Linked DNA regions of Homo sapiens: region 2 is linked to region 1. A link means that fine-mapping ties the variant in region 1 to the expression of a gene that starts in the linked region. Tissue or cell type: whole blood. Region 1 holds a variant in brackets; the other region holds the start of a gene. All regions are shown on one strand. Distances are from middle to middle.

Region 1 (8,108 bases):
TGCCTGTTCGGGAGATGTGGCAGCTGATGCTTAACACTTCAAAACCATTTTCCCGGCCCCTGCAGCACCTACTGTTCTCTTCACCTTGAGTTTTATGAGAGCAAGAACTTGATCACTCAGCTTCCCTTCCAAACCCGCTGTTACACTCCTGACACCTGTTTCCTGTTCAGGGACATGAGAAATGTCTGTGTCCATGCAGCAAATTCAGTCACACTAGCCACGGTTTCTAAAGTAAACATTTATTGGAAAGTTTCTTGTCAGATTCATTTGATTAGGGATAGAGGTTATTCACCACCGTATCCACTTCTGTAAGTCCAAAGAATGCAAAGAAAGCTTGACTACTGCTGTGTCCCATGTGACAAATGTGTTTTACTGCTGTTTCCTGTGAATGACACCACTTCTCTCGGGGAATCGCTGAGCTCGGGATGCTGAGGCGACACCACCAGCTGGGTTCTCTACCTTCCTCCTTACTGGTGATGCTCTTTCCTGGAAGTCGTGTGTGGCAGAGATTTTAGTACTTTTCTTTTCAGTTCTGAGAATTTTCCCTGGGGCTTTCATCTCCCTCTCTTCTCTGGGTCTGAAGCTGCTTGTATTTCCATCTAGTTTTTTGTACTCTCCACAGCCAGCTGGATTTCCTGGCTTCCGGTTACCCATTTCCTCCCCACTCCAACCACCTCCTGTCATTTTACTGCCCCCTACCCCTCACCTAAATTATTCCCTCTGATCTTTACCCTTCCTCCTTCACAGACTGCTTCAAAGATCCTTTCCCAATAGGTTCCTATTAAACACCATCCCAGAACAAACTGCCTCCTTCTCTCGCCAAATAAACCGCTTTCAATAAGCCTCTCCCAACCCCCTAAACAAATAACATCTTGTAATCTCTATCATTCTAAAATATTGCTTTTCATAATCTCCAACAATTGGCTCCCTTTTTCCCCTTGAAGAAATAAACTCAGTGACCCTTATTTGGGCATTGAGCTGCCTCAATGAAACTATAAAATACACACATACGCACACACACACACAACTTCCCAAACGAAGATAACCTAATACAACCTTTTGCTTTCCCTTTCTCCAAGAAAGAAAACTTTCACGAAGTATGTAAGTACCCACTTGCGTCTTTCGAAGATTTTTTTCCCCAGTGAAACAAGCTAAGGAGAAATACAGTAAAGTATTCCAAGGCCAAACACATTCTACTGTTTATTACACATATTACATTCTTAAATAAAAATGCGTCACATAACATTTTTTGCATAGATATCTTACAATATACCAATTTAAAAAAGAATTATGAAACAGACCAGTAACAAAAATAAATTTTTTCTTCATTAATAATTTTGTAACATTAACATACCACCATCATATAATACAAATAATAGTTTTAAATCTTAAGACTTTTGTACAGCAAAAAAACTTGACAAAGTAATATATTTATATATATATATATATAAAAAGCTTAAAAAAAATAAAATGTCAAAAAAAGGCATAACCGAGGGCTATAAGACTGGGTACTTCTGTGATATATTATAAATACCAGAGAAGGCCTGAGAGAATGTGACGGGGGGAGGCGGGGAAGGAGACGGGGCTGGGAGTAGGTCTCTCCAAACACACTTGTTAGACACATCTGGCAAAAAGAAAATGTATAGTGCAAAAATAAATTTATTCAAGCAACTGTTAAGAGGATAATAGAGATTTGAAAGAAAAGTTTCAGTGGCTGGGAAGTTGTGTGGGAGTAGGAAGTGGGAGAAGGAGCTTGACGCGGGGGCGGGTGGGGGCTTGTGGAAAGGAAGGGGAGGCTTCAAAAACATTAGACATTTATTTTTGCCTCTGTGTTAGCAAGGAGATCTTGGCCATTAACAGGTGTATTTTTCCTCCCTGGAATGAAGCAGAAGTGAAAGATAAGGAAATTAAACTAAGTCTGGGTTTAGATAGGAAATGCATGCTGGGAAGAAAAAACAAAAAGGTTGAGAACCAGCCAATAAGCCCCAAAGCCTTCAGGACCTAGGTTTGCAGAAATCGTTCTGCCTCCAGTCCAAAGGCCTAGGTTTAAAATGTCCCCTCTGCCCACCCCCAACCCCTCCCCGCTATGTGGAACTCCCAGTGTGGTTTCGATATACTGGCAATTATAAGCATCCATCCCCCCCAAAAGATATTAGGCACTGGTGGCTACTCCTCCGAAACGTCAGTAGCCTGTTTTCCTTCCGTGAAGGTACGACAGGTACATATGCGCATGTCTAGGTGCGAGCATATATACCACCCTCATTATGCTGACGTGGGGTCCATCTTATGGCAGTAGACAGAAGCTGGACTCACAGCAAGTTACGATTCCAAAGCTCACAGTTGAAAAAAAATTGTATAAACAGTCCCCAACAAAGAACATTATCAACCTTCCCTCATGACCACTGAGAGGGAGCCCTGTTTGAAAAGAATATCTTGTTTGGGATATTTGTGAAGTGATGGCCCAGGATTTCTCTCTCTGTTTTTGACACCTGTTTCCCGAGGACTTTTATGTTAAATGCAAAACACCTGAAAAATACAGTACTCTATTGGAAGGATGCACATAAGAAAGTTAACTGCAGCTTTATTTTTCCCTTTTCTGGGATCTATTAGGAACCAACAGAGGAGATTTAAGAGTGTTAAAAGCAAGAAAAAACCCTGAAGCCTCAGGCAGTTCGTCGTGGGAGGTCACGTTATTTACAAGAAGTTTCTGCTTCCTTTCACACATTTCTGTTGTTCCATCTCAAGTATTCCCAAAGATCCTCACTGAGGAAAGTAGGCCATCAAAGAGACATTGATGTATACTCAGGATAGGCCCTCTAGTTTTCAAACTGAGATATCACCATGTTCACCGAAATTTAATCCAGACACCCTGAATTTGAGTCCTCCCCTCCTGCCCCCCAACTCTTGCGCTTGGCAGGTGGCCACTTCCCGAAAATGCAAAGGAAAGCTTCCAGGAGTAAATTTCAATCAGGTTCTATTTACTGAATGTTCATTTTGGCAATGTTCTGGGTGCAAAATTGTAGCCAGAAATGCTGGCCCTCTTAAGATTTCAAAAAAATTCTAATAAACTAAAAAATGAACCTGATTTTTGTAGTTAAATGTGTTGCATCTTTATCTTACTTTGCCTACCTTCTTCCTGCTCCTAAAAGCAACTCATGCAAAAGAGAAGACAGAAGCACTTCCCACTTTTTACTTAACATTTTATGAAGTGACTTCCATAAAGGAAACCATTTTGAACCATCAAAACGAGTCACTGGGTTTTGTTCTTGCA[A/C]CTTGAGTTTCTTTTGGCTTTGCCATAAAATGCAGGAATAAAGGCAAGAGGCAATGTTCCGAATGCACTGGAAGAGCCATCCAAAAGCCCCATTTCTTTCCCCTTTGATGCAAATAGACATGGATAATCTGGAAAGCTTATCCCAAACAAAAGTCCTTATAAAATCTTCTCTGAAGCCAGAGAAGATTTTTTAAAACTAGGATTCAGTTCTGCTAATCAGGCATGAGGTTGGCTGTCCTTTTACCCTGTTATCATCAGGCAATCAAAGATGTACAAAGGGCACAAGAGGTGCAGGTGGAGAGGAGATGGCGTCGAGAGAAGAGGATATTTGAAGGGCTTTGCAAGGGAAAGCACACAGAGAGGAGGAAATGGTCAGCATGAAGTTCATTTTGGGGTCTCCAATATTTTTACAAAAATGCAGCTTTGTCATGGAATCTGAACATCTCTTTTTCTGGACATAATACTCATTACCACCAGGCATTGAGCTGAGCCATTAACCATGGGTGGGGCAGGAGGCCAGTAGCTAGGAGCAGCATTATAATTTCAGGTTTCCATGTCTATGACTTACAGTCATGTGGCAGGAGAAAGAAGTATAATTTGAAATTACAAAAAAAAAAAATTGTCAGTGGCTTAGAAACTCTTTTTCTACATGAACAAATCTGAACCCTGGATAAAAGCGTGCTTGTTAGGACACCACCAGAAACACCAGGCCGGGTTTTTCCTTTCAAATTTGGGATCCCCTGGAGGGTTAGGAGGTAACAACTGAAATGAGAAAGGGGTTTAATGTGTTTCAAATGTCCATTAATGCACTGTTTTAAATAACCAGTCCTCTTGGGAGCAAAATGTCTTCAGGTTACTTCTTGGAAAACCTGCTCGCTCTAGCGGCTCTTAGTAACCATCTCTGCCACTGCAGAGGTGATGGACGTTTTATTACAAATCCATTTCCAAAATGATCAGGACTGGTCATCATTCACAGGTGTCAACTCGGCTAAAGAAGAACAGTTTCAAAGCCATCCACTTAGCACCCACCAAATTCTTAGGCCAATTCTCACAGTCAACAAATGACTCTGAAGCAAGCAAGCACCACCATTGAGTTTCAATGCACCCTGCTCCAAGAAAGGTCAGGAGCAGATTACAAAGGACCTCACTGATACAAAAGAGAGAGAAATTACTGAACATTTCAGACACTGATGAGGACCAAAGGGCCTTTGTTCTGCCACATTCAAATGAGACCACAGATGAAAATAGGGAGCAAACAAGCAATGATTACTCTTTTGCATTTTTTAAACTTTCTTTTTAATAGAGCCTTGCATTGGTCAGTTCGAAAATTAAATTAAGTATTATAAACCCTTAATAATAGCATTCGAGAGGCAAGAGCAGCTCCAGCTTGGGAGAGAACATTTGCAAATCGTGGTGGCCATGGCTTAATGCCATCACTGGCGTGTGCGTGCATTCATGCTGGAGGCTGCTACATAAAGGAAAAGAAAGGAACCAACAGAATTCAGGGTGTCTAAAAGTTTCATCTAGTGCACTGACTGGAGGCGCTACAGTTTAATACAGCTGAGGTTCAAGGTCCCTCACACATCCTTCATCCAGGAAGGATGCACCACACATTCAAATATAATCCCATGGTACGCCCTGATGGACTGGCCACAAAATGCACTCAAATGCAGCAGAGAACTACGAGATTGTCAGCAAGCAGTGCTCCAGAAATTGTTTTTAAGTCATGTCTAGTTTTAAATCTTTGGAATAAAACTGATTTTTAATACCCTCCAACTAACATACATACAATTGCCTCCGGCAAATGGACAGATTTTGTGTGTGTGTGCGCGTGTGTGTTAACGGGTGTTCTTTCTTTTTTTTTCGTTTTGTATTATTTTGTTTTTTTTTTTGTTTTTGTTTTTGTTTTTTTTGGTCTAAATAGAAAAAAGGAAAAGGAGAAAGTAAATTCTTAGGGCCAGACCTCGAAATGCCCCAAGTGTCCAATTGGCAGCTATAGCATTTGTGAGGAGGTTCCTTTGCCCTCAGACGAGTAGTTTCAACATTTCAGTGAAAACAAAGGTTGCAGAAAGCTGAAAACCCAGATCTTGAAGGTTGCTGTCATATATGTGTTTGTGTTTCTTATATTATTTCCTTTTGACTTCAGTTTTGCATCCCAAATATGTATGGGGTGGCATTTTAACAGTCAATGAGTCAAACAGTCAAAGGAGGACAGGAGGGGAGCCAGCTGGTAGGAGGGAGCAGCAACCGTGTGTGGACCAAGCGCCATTTTTGTTTTATAGACGTGTCTTGAAGGGATGGTCCCAGAATATACAAAATATACAATCTGTCCTAATAACCACCCCGCTTGCTTGCATAGGCCATTTGATGGTCCTAAAGGCAGTCTTTGGAGTTGAGGCCAGTGCCAGCTAGCTAGGAATGCGGGTAGATAGAGACCACTACTGGATGTGTGAGTGTGGCATGACAAGTAAGGACTGTAGACTCCTTTGGAGTCAGCTTGCAGAGTAAATGTGAGGCCTCTGTTAATCCTGGGGGTTCTAGGTCACAAGTCATGGTGGGCCTAGCCAAAAAAAAAAGGAAAGAAAGAAACGTGTCTCTCCTTTTAGACAGCCCATGAGAGAAACACCTCAACCTTTTCCTTAAATGTCAACCCTTCACTCCCACAATGGCGTTTTAAATTGTGTATTGTAACACGTAGGGGAATAGGAGCTCAGTGGGCATGACAGAGAAGACAGGATGATCTTTTGTGAAGCCACTAGACTTGGGAGGCATCCTCAGTTTTCCCCACTCCTGGAAAGAGTGATATTTTTGGCTTTTTGTCAGGTCATAAACCAGAGTTAAATTAAATACGCAGCTGCCCTCTGAGACTAGCGACATCTATGCTGTAACTGGTTATGGGGTAGCAATGACACACAGCACAACGGTTGATCACTATGAGCTGAGGTCATCATGCCTCAAGGAGGATGAGAGAACTGTGATGTCCCATCTGACTGGCTGCTTCGAGAGCTGGACATCCAGGTGCCGAGAGAGTCCTGGAGAGGTTTAGTCCATGGAGAAAAGATAAAACATTTAAGCTTCCAAATAAGCTTTTCAAGTTTTCGTTAGCAAAAACGGAGAGATTAAAAAGAAAAAATCTAGCACTGGCAATAAGGTGAGGCTCAAGGGATATACTGTGATTTATCATCAAGGACTTTATTCTCTTGGCCACTTTGCAGTCATGCTAGAAGTTTCCAGAATCCCTAGTGCATATGGTGTGCAAAAGTCAAAACGTAAGAAAAGAAAACTCCTCCCTTGAGAGTGAAGTCTACAGAAATGCAGGCCAGAAAGGTGTAAGGTGTTATTCCAGTCTGCCGCCGCTAAGGCCGTTGGGATCGACGCGAAAGATCTCAATAGTACTAAGAACCAAAACCAGTCAACAGTTCTGTGAGGAAGTCTGACGCACGGAATAGTAGGACTTTTCACACACAAAGGACAAATAAACCAAGAGTTAATTTTGGCTACCAAACTGCAATTTGGTTTTCTAGGTCATTTTCCCCCAACTATTTAAAAAGAAACATTAGTGCTACACATATGCAACTTTAAGATGCTGGATTCTCCTATCAAGTTGCACTGAGAAGCAAGTGAAATAAGCCCCTCGGACTGCCGTCCACCTGCACAGACGTCACATCCATTTTCTTTGATTTCCATTGGCAACAGCGGGAAATAATTCCAATAGTGCTGAAGTAAGCAGCCAGTCTGCCTTGCTGAGTTCACCTGGTTTCCTTCTTCATCTTCTTCCATCTGGCTAGGGCAAGGCATAAAGAATAGACGTATATATTTTAAATATAGTTGAGTGCATGACAGTGTGTATGTGTGTGGGTCTGTGAGTGTGTGTATATGTGTGTGTGTGTGTGTGTGTGTACAGAGGTTTATAAGTGAGAACTTTCTTCTGCGAGGCAATGGGTCCCCGCCTGAAGTCCAGCCCCCTGCCTCATGGCGTTTCCTTTAGACACTAGCCGATGCCATGGCAACTCTGGCCTTTCGGTTTTTTAGATATGTCTCTTCATGTGGAGGGCAAGATGGTCAGACCTGGAAAAACACCTAGGAGATATAAACAACAAGGATATTAGAGAACTCCCAGCAAACAGCTTGACTTGCATCACTCCTTAGGAAATGATTTCCCTTACTTTAAACAGAGACAGTGCACATGCATTGAGAAACAGGGCCATGTGTTGGGAAGGTAAGTTTAAGGGACAAAATGTTTGGGTTTAAATCCTATCTCTTCCAATAGCTGTGTGACTCGGAGCACATTAACCTGTCTGTACTTTAATTCCTCCTCAGTAGAGTGGGGATAATTATAGCATTTACCTCATAGGTGGGTTGTGAGGATTAAATGAGATGATCTATGCAAGGTACTTAGAATACGGACTGGCACATCGTAGGATCTCAGTGCATGTTAACTGTTATGATCATAATTGTGATTATTAAAGAAGAATGGGAAAGTGCTTTTGAAACCTGTGTCATGCCTGCATACTGTAAATATAATAAAGAATAATTAGTCTATATCATCAAAGGGTGGAACTTTGAAATTTCAACACCCAGATTTCAACCCTAAACTTTACAATGAAAGCCTAGAAATACTGCTTGTGATACTACTTACAGGCTTATCAGACACTCTATATTCAAGTCAAAAAAAAAAAAAAAAAAGGATGAAGAAGGGTGCTCACAGTTATTGAGTATGTTACGATATGTAGGCACTATGCTAAGGGTTTTCCCAATATCACGCCATCCTCACCAACCCTCCATGGTAAGTATTCTCACGCTTTGTGTGTGTGTGTGTTGGGGGCAGAAAGGAGGG
Region 2 (8,100 bases), 88 kb after region 1:
CTTAGATCATCACTGCTTGACCTGCACTCATGAAATAGCAGACTAGAGATAAAACATATAAAAGTTCTAAAAGTCTTTGTATATTCAAGAAGAAAATAAAAGCATTGTATCAAATTCTTTTTATTTTCCAAGTCAGCAGTGTGTCTAAAAAAAAAGATTATGATTTCTATTGGCAAAAAAAGTCATGAATGAGTTTCCCTTTACTCATAATCAAGTGGTACCCCATAAGAAACTCTGGTTTCTGTCCTACCCTTGACCTTTTCCTACTTTTGCTCAGACAGCTCTTGGAAATTTTCCTACAAGTTTTCAAAGCGCTTAAGGCTGGTAGTCTTAAGAATTGCGCGTCAGCTGAATTCTATAAAATAATAGACCACATAAGCACAGTGTAATTTACAGTTATATGACAGGCAGAAAGATGATGTTACTTGGGCCGAGTGCTTAAGTATGCAGTCAGAGCCCAGGAATGGAGAGCTGTTAATGTGTGATGTCCATTTGGATTTCAGAATTATACCAGCAACGATTATTTTCAGACTTGGAGCTATGTGGCTAAGGCATCATTGCCAGAAAATCCAATGTCAAAACGAGGATCTCCGTGACGAGAGGGAGCCCTGCCACAGTCAGTGACTTTGTCACAGGCTCACTGACTATTAAGCAGGACAATTATCCCATATCCTAAGTTTAAAATAAAATCCCCAAATTGTTTATCTTCAATTTTCAAACGTAAAAATGTTCTTGAGTTTATCATCGAAGCCACTCTTTCTCTAGAAACCAAGTCAGATTATCAGAGTCTCCACATTTTGCTCATCTCCATGAGCCCAGGTACATTGTTCACTTTAAGAAGAACATCTAATAATTACTCCTCATTTGACCTCTAAAATCTGATTACCCCAGAGCATAAAGAAACTTCTTCCTGTCTGGGGTTCTTTGCAGAAACCCTGTTGAGCTGTTTTGAGCAAAAGAGTCTCAAAATTTCATTATCCGATAGTTGATTTGGAACTAACAGTTGCATATCACCATCACCACCCCTTATACTCAGAAGCAGCAAGACGGTTTTGGGAGGGGGAAGAAGGAAGGGCTAGAGGTTAAAGGTTTTGTCATCAGTGTAAACCTATGGTCCTAGTCGCCTTTATATAGAGCAGTTGTGATTACGGAGTCCAGAACATAAAGCTCACTGGAGTGATATATTGTTTATTAGTGCTTCCCCACAAGCTATGCATCAGCATTGGCTATAAGCATGACGCTGAATAAGTTGGCTAAGGGTTTTAAGGTGAGAGTGGCTGGCAGTTGGAGAGGGTTAAGGCAAAAAATGAGGGGGTTCCGAGGGGTGAAAAATCCTTTGCCTGTAGAAACTAAACTAGAGCTTCCCTGAATGGGGAGGAGGCAGAGGAGCAGGGGGAGGAGGGGAGAAGGAAGAGCAGAGATGGCTTCTTAGGAAACAATAGATCTAATACATCCTCTAGTTGTCAAACCGATGATGTTTCTTTGCAGATCTAGAGTTTGTCCTGGATGGTCTAGCCAGATCTAGAAAAGCAGGTTTCCTGTGAAGAGACCTTCCTCCAAATCTGGCTTTACTACTCTGAAAACTTGAACCAAAACAAAGTTGCATGATTCATCAGTAGGGAACGTTCTAACAAATAAAGCCAACTTTCTTCCTTCTAACACTGCTTAACAGTTAGTCACAAACAAGGGCTGCCTTGGGCAGGCTGACTAAATCAACAGATTCCCTTCTCTAACCTGTCTAGACAGTTGTTAATATGCAACCGATTCCATACCAGTGGGCTGACAGTGTGAAATGAAGGCTATTTCAGAAGATTTTGGTTTAATTAGCATTGGAAATAAAAGGAAGAAAAAGATCCAGTGAGACCCTTCATGAGACACACTCTCGTTAAGGATAAGGAAAAGGATGCATTGAAGAAAGACTTTATTCTAAAAATATGTGAACTGTGTATGTGTTTACAGAGAGACAGAGTCAAGCATCTGCTAGCGTCCTTGGACAAGAATGCATGTGTGGACACAGAGACACCAGACGCCAATACCTGGAGGAAAACTCACAGCCTCTGACCAGAAGTGAACTAGCAACAATGGTACAGTTAAAGGATCCGCCTTGCCACTCGGCTCCTTATACCAAAAGCCAAACCTCTTTTGCTAAAGCAGAGACTGTTACATCTCAGCCTCAAGCTGGCAAATCCTGCTTTGGATCCCGGCAGAGGAAATTCAGCCGTTCATTAGCCTTAACAAGCTGCTGTCACTAAGCGAAGAAATTACACGAGCAGCCACACACCGAGCCTCTCACAGCCCTCCCCCCAAGGGCAAGCGGGTTTCTCCAGGACGGACTGTACAAGTTCACACTTCCTATGTGCAAATCCGGACTGTCTTCTTGGACTTTCCATGGTGCACACTGTACAATTTTTAAATACCCGTGTCCCCCCGCCCCCACCCACCATCTTTCCTGCAGAATGTCCCCTCAGCAGCTCCTAATCGCTGCTGAAAAAAACCACTGTTTCCGCAGCAGAGCCAGCACTTTCCACTGACCAGCACTTTCTTTATTCCACTTCACAAAGCCCAGTGAACTTGTCACCAGCCCCACTTCATCCTCCCTGGGACGGCTAGCCAACTTGGCATCGGTGCCCTTCAGCATCCTGGGAGTTTCTTAACTAGTCCTCTAAGACAAAGTCAAAGGCATGGAAGCACACATCAGCCTTTGTCCGAGGTTGTGCTGCCTAACTAGAGAAGGACCCTAAACAAAAAAGAGAAACAAGGACACGCATAGAGGGTGTTCTCTTTCTGGAGGGATCACACTGGGAAAACCTACAATTCATTGTCAGCCTCAGCTACATCTTCCCGTCCTCCTTGAGTATCTTTTGTCAGTGGGCTCTTCTCTCTTTTGCCTACCTTCTAATCTCAAAATCAAGCTCCTATTCTTTATTGACACTCGCTAATTACTGAAAAACACTCCGCTTTGCTCCTGCCCACCCTCCCCCGCCCCCCATCCGATGGTCATAAGCACCAGTTGAAACAGATGAACCTGATTTCAGGTATCAAGTGGGTAGAGCTCATGCATGCGAGAACGTGGTCCCTGTCAGCAATCGCTCCTAACACCCCAAACCACCTTCCCACCCGGCTCCTCCGAACCCCAGAAGTTCGGCAGGTCTCTGATAGGGGACAGCAAACCCGACAACGTGTGCGCAGGGATGTGTGTTGGCGACTGAAACGCAGGCAGCTCGCACCGGCTGCTCAGCTCGGCACTCTACGAGGTTAGGGGTGGGTGGAGAGGTAAGCGCAGATGACTGTTTCAGAAAACATTTTCAACAACAGACAGCCAAAAAGGAAGAAAAAAAAGTCAAACAAACAAACAAAAATTTCAACCCAGAGCCCACACCAACGCAGCCCCTGCGTCTCCGCCGCCACCACACGATTTACACAAGTAATTTAAATCATTCACCTGCTGCCAGGTCTCCTCCAGGGATGGTAAAGCTGAGAAGTAGCCGGTGTCGTGGACAAGTTGTAGCTCCTGGAATATACTATAACTAGCCAACACGTCCATGCTGCTGCTGCCGGGCAAAACGGGAGGCGAAACCCTCCCCCGAACACAGTTGGGGCTGTTTGTTTGTCAGTCTGTCTGGCTCACCCCCCAAGAAGGCAGACATCCAGTGGCCCTTTTGTTTTGTTTTGTTTCAGTCAACTAAAAAGGAAAAAAAAAAATCAATGCAGGAGAGGGAGAGAGGAGGTGAGAGAGGAGCGAGTGAGTGGGGTGGATGGAGAGAGGCATCCAGCGTGTACAGTGCAGACGACTGCCAGGAAAAGGGGACTTCTCCACGGGAGTAACAATTCCCTTCCAGGGCTCTAATCACTCCAGCTCGTGGATCAGGAAGGGGGATGCAAACTCACTGACACGAAGCTGCCATCTATTTCTGCAGCGCTGTTCGCTCCTAATGCAATCTTTGCTCTTTATTTTGGGAGGTTGCATTTTTTTCTCTCGCGATCGCTTCTCTTCCCCCCCCTTCCCTTCCCTCCCCACCCCCCACCCCATCCTTGCTAGTTTGTAGTCTTCCCCCTCCCTTTTCTCCTCCTCCTGCTCTTCCCCCTCCCCAAACTCCCTCCCTCCGTTCGGTTCTCCGCGCAGCCGTGGGATCTCGAGGAGGGCGTCCATTAGGCCGCGTGTGACCATGTAAGGTAAACAGGGGGCTCATGAAGTCACTGAGGACCAATGGGGAGCCCGGAGCAGAGCCTGGGGCGGGGCTTGGCCCTGGCGGCGGGCGCGGATTGGCACGCTGCGGATCTCCCTGCTGCCTTACAAGGCGGTGCGAGGCGAGCTATTTTTAGAGGGCTATATAAGGGGGCTGAGGCGGCCGCCCGGCGGCCGGGCAGCGCGAGCGCAAGGGACAGGGAGGGTCGTGGCGACACTCGCGCCAGCTCCCGGGACGGCTGGGCTCGGGCTGGTCGCCGACCTCCGACCCTCCACTAGATGCCTGGCAGAGCCCGGCGCGTCCGGAGCCCGCGCCCCTCAGAGGGAAGGGGTCGCGCGTCGCCGCGGCGGCCCTGAGGCTGACGGTCGGGAGGTGAAAGGCCGGAGTGCGGGGTCAGGACGCCTCCTGGAGGGGGCGCGGCGCAGGGGGCCGCGGGGAAGCCGCCGAGGGCGCGGAGCGGGAAGGAAGGACAGTGGCCACCCCGCCTCCGCCTGGGCACGGGGCAGGGACCCGCGCGAGGCGGTGCCGGGGAGGTCCTCACGTACTCAAAAACAAGCAGAAAAGGCATCCAGGGCCCCTTCCCGAACTCCCCACGGGCTGCCAGGGTGCAGAGAAGAAGCGCCTGAGGAGGAAGTGCCACACAATGGGAGAGAACAAAGGGGAGCGGAGCGAGACCGCGGCCTGCGCCCGCCCCCCGCTTGCGCACAGTCCCCGCCCCGCCCCGCGGGCGCCGCCGCCGCCGCCCTCCCTCCCGCGCCTCCTTCTGACCCCGAGCGAGAGACCTGGTCGGGAGTCCGGCGGCTAGAGTTGATTGCAAGGGGCCTGTTGCTCGACTGTGCGTTAAAGAGGCTAGAGGGAGCCTAGGTAGACGTGGGGCGCAAGCTGGAGCCGGCAGCTTGCGAGGGGGCCTTTACGTGATGAGGCTCACCATGGGGTCTCCAGCGAGGTGTCTGCAGAGCTTCGATGGTGAGAGGAGGAACTCGATTTCTCGTTTTCTGGAGTTGGGATGTAGACATAGAGAGATCTGTTACATCTGAGATGAAAACCCTGCACAATTCACGTTAGGGTTGGCCAATTGTTTGCTTGACCTTAAATGGTTAGTGTGGTTTAAGCTTCCCCAAAATGCGCTGTGAGCTGAGCTTCCACTTTTGGAATGATTGCAGAATTCGGTGCTTAAGAGATGAGAAACTTCGTTCTACCAGTAATGGAAGAAACGCTTCACCTTAATCACCCTCCTTGTCTTTCCCCTCCCTTTGACTATGTAGGACTCGATAACACAACATTTGAAAGATTCTACTCTATGAAATAAGCACAGATTGAAATTCAGTATTTGCCAAGGAATATTAAACATGAATTACTGGGATTGAGGAAAGCCTGATTTATTTACTTGTTAGTGTCTGGAATTCTGTTGGCCAGATTCATAGCATTCATTGTATGAGTATAATTGGAACATTTACTCTAATGTAGATGCAGATGCATCTGCAATTAGATGTGCAAGGACGCTGCCAGCTAACTAGCTGCACGACTTTGAGCGAATTACTGGGTCAGAACTTGTATCTACCCATCTCAGAAACAGAAATAGTGGGATCCGCGTTGTCTAGTTGTTATGAAGAGTCAAAATATCTTTGGTAACTCACCTAGCATAGTATCTGACACTATTAGGTGAATACTAAATATTAGCTATCATTGTCTCCCCACTTGAGCTATGTAAACTAATAGGACCTTTAGGAGAATATACTATTAATAGAATCTTGGAGATAGAGGAAAGGTAGAAACCCCTTGCTAGTTTGTTACAAGGTCTCCCCTTCTCCATGCTCTCCCCTGACCCCCATGCTATTTCAACTGGGGGGATGGGCAGGAACCATTGAGAAACACTAGGGCAAAAAACATGTTCATGAATAATAGGGGAAGGAAAGGAACTTGGGTATAGAAAACTAGAGGCAAAAGGTGAGGCAAGACCAACCATATAATTTGGTACTTGAGACTCAAGTGAACTTATTTTGTGTGTGTTACATTATAACAATTTTTGAATAAAATAGGACATATCGGTTAACGTGAGTTTGAAGATTTTACAAATAATAGTTCCCATTTATTAAGCACTTCGAATGTGCCGTATGCGCATAAACACTTTATATGCAATGTCTCATTTAATCTTAAGGACAGCCCCAAAGTATCCCCAACTTTATGGATGAAGATACCCACGCTTGGAAATACTAAGTAAGTTGGTCAAGGTCTCACAACCTGGAAGTGGTCAAGCAGGGGTTCAAATCCAAGAGCATCTGACTCCCCACACTGTTCTGTACTGAGCTTTGTATGGTGAAAAATGGGGTTCCTCAGCTTTAAGTCAGTGTGTGTTTACAAAAATTGCTTGGGTGGGGCCGGAGGAGGAGGCTTCCATTGAGACTTTTCCTATGTAACTATCAGCCGTCTGACTTGCAAAAGGACTCAACCAAAATTTTACAAAGCAAATACTGCAAACCTCATTATGGTCTTTGCTCCAAGCTTTGTAGAATATTTTAGATTCATTTTAAGAGATTTATGCAGCAAGGCATTCTGAAAGGCACATTTTCAATATTAGTTATATTTAGCTACTTTTTATACCCTAGAGACCCAAGATTCACATTGCAAAACACATGCAAGGTATCCAGATGTACAAAGTAATCAACAAATTAAGATCACAAGAGAACTTTGGCAGTTCAGCAAACCAAAATAAACTGCACTGTTGTAACTACCACTTACTGGTTGATTACCTTCTTTGTACCTAGCATTTTACACATACCTCTGATCTCCACAATCCTGTGAGGGAACTCTTAGTGCTCCATTTTTATAGATGAAGATACTGAAGTTTAGAGAGTGCATGTAATTTGCTCATTACCATGTGTCCAGTAAGTGGGTAAAAGCAGATTAGAATACAGGTCTGCCTCCAAATCGACTCCAAAATCTGTCTTCTCCACAAGTATTGCCTTGGGAGGTGTTCATTTTACTTCTAATAATGTCAATCTTTGGAAGTAATCCTATAGAAAACACCCTAGAGTAAATAATAAATTATCCCCCCACCCGGGGGGAGCTTAGAAATAAATGAGGATATTTTAAGAATAAAATAGTAAAAATTTAATATGTGAATACACACATTAAAGGCATCAGGCTGTTTCCACCAGTAAAGTTTTGCTTCATTAGTGTAGGAAGTCTTTATTATCCCAGTGTGATTAGTACTCCTCAAAGTAAATCTACTTAAAGCTGGGACCAAATTTCAGACCAATCAGTGAAGAAAGCTTTGCTTAAGACTTTATTTGAAAATAAAACTAAATGTTATTAAAATACATTCATTCTGTCCTATATGGGCATACCTCATTTTATTGTACATAGCTTTATTATGCCTTGCAGATACTGCTTTTTTATACAAATCGAAGGTTTGTGGCAACCCTGCTTGGAACAAGTCTTATCAGCACAATTTTCCCAACAACATGTACCCACTTTATGTCTCTGTGTAACATTTTGGTAATCCTCACAATAGTTCAAACTTTTTTTGTTATTATATCTGATATGGTGATCTGTGATCAGTTATTTCGGTTTTACCATTGTAATTGTTTTAAGGCACCATGAACTGTGCCCAAATAAGACATAGAACTTAACTAGTGTGTGTGTGCGTGCTAATTACTCCACCGACTGGCTCTTCCCCTCCTCTCCTCAGGCCTCCCTATTCGTTAAGACACAACAATAATGAAATTAGGCCAGTTAATATCCCCACTATGGCCTCTAAGTGTGCAAGTGAAAGGAAGAGTGACATATCTCTTTAAATCAAAATCTAGACATAAGCTTAGTGAAGAAGGTATATCAAACACCGAGATAGACCAAAAGCTAGGCCTTTACACCAAACAGTTGGCCACTCTGTGAATGGAAAGAAAAAGTTATT

Evidence for each region. PIP is the estimated chance that this variant, and not a neighbour inherited with it, causes the effect.
Region 2: KLF7 starts here. The variant in region 1 is fine-mapped to the expression of KLF7 in whole blood (INTERVAL, PIP 0.97).

Annotation. Positions count from the first base shown.
Region 1 is chr2:207,073,914-207,082,021 of GRCh38, forward strand. It overlaps KLF7 (KLF transcription factor 7), which reads right to left. Exons shown (of 4, transcript NM_003709.4): 4 at 224-7,351. The coding sequence ends at 7,300. Among named protein-coding and RNA genes, the nearest start is that of MIR2355, 32 kb to the right of the region's middle. The variant A/C (reference allele first, on the strand shown) is at 3,272.
Region 2 is chr2:207,162,025-207,170,124 of GRCh38, forward strand. It overlaps KLF7 (KLF transcription factor 7), which reads right to left and starts at 3,924. Exons shown (of 4, transcript NM_003709.4): 1 at 3,443-3,924. The coding sequence starts at 3,544. MIR7845 (microRNA 7845) reads left to right here and starts at 4,376; the gene lies at 4,376-4,474. RefSeq lists enhancers at 1,517-2,225, 2,226-2,934, 3,536-3,635, 3,643-4,351, 4,352-5,059 and 1 more and silencers at 4,126-4,765, 5,386-5,435.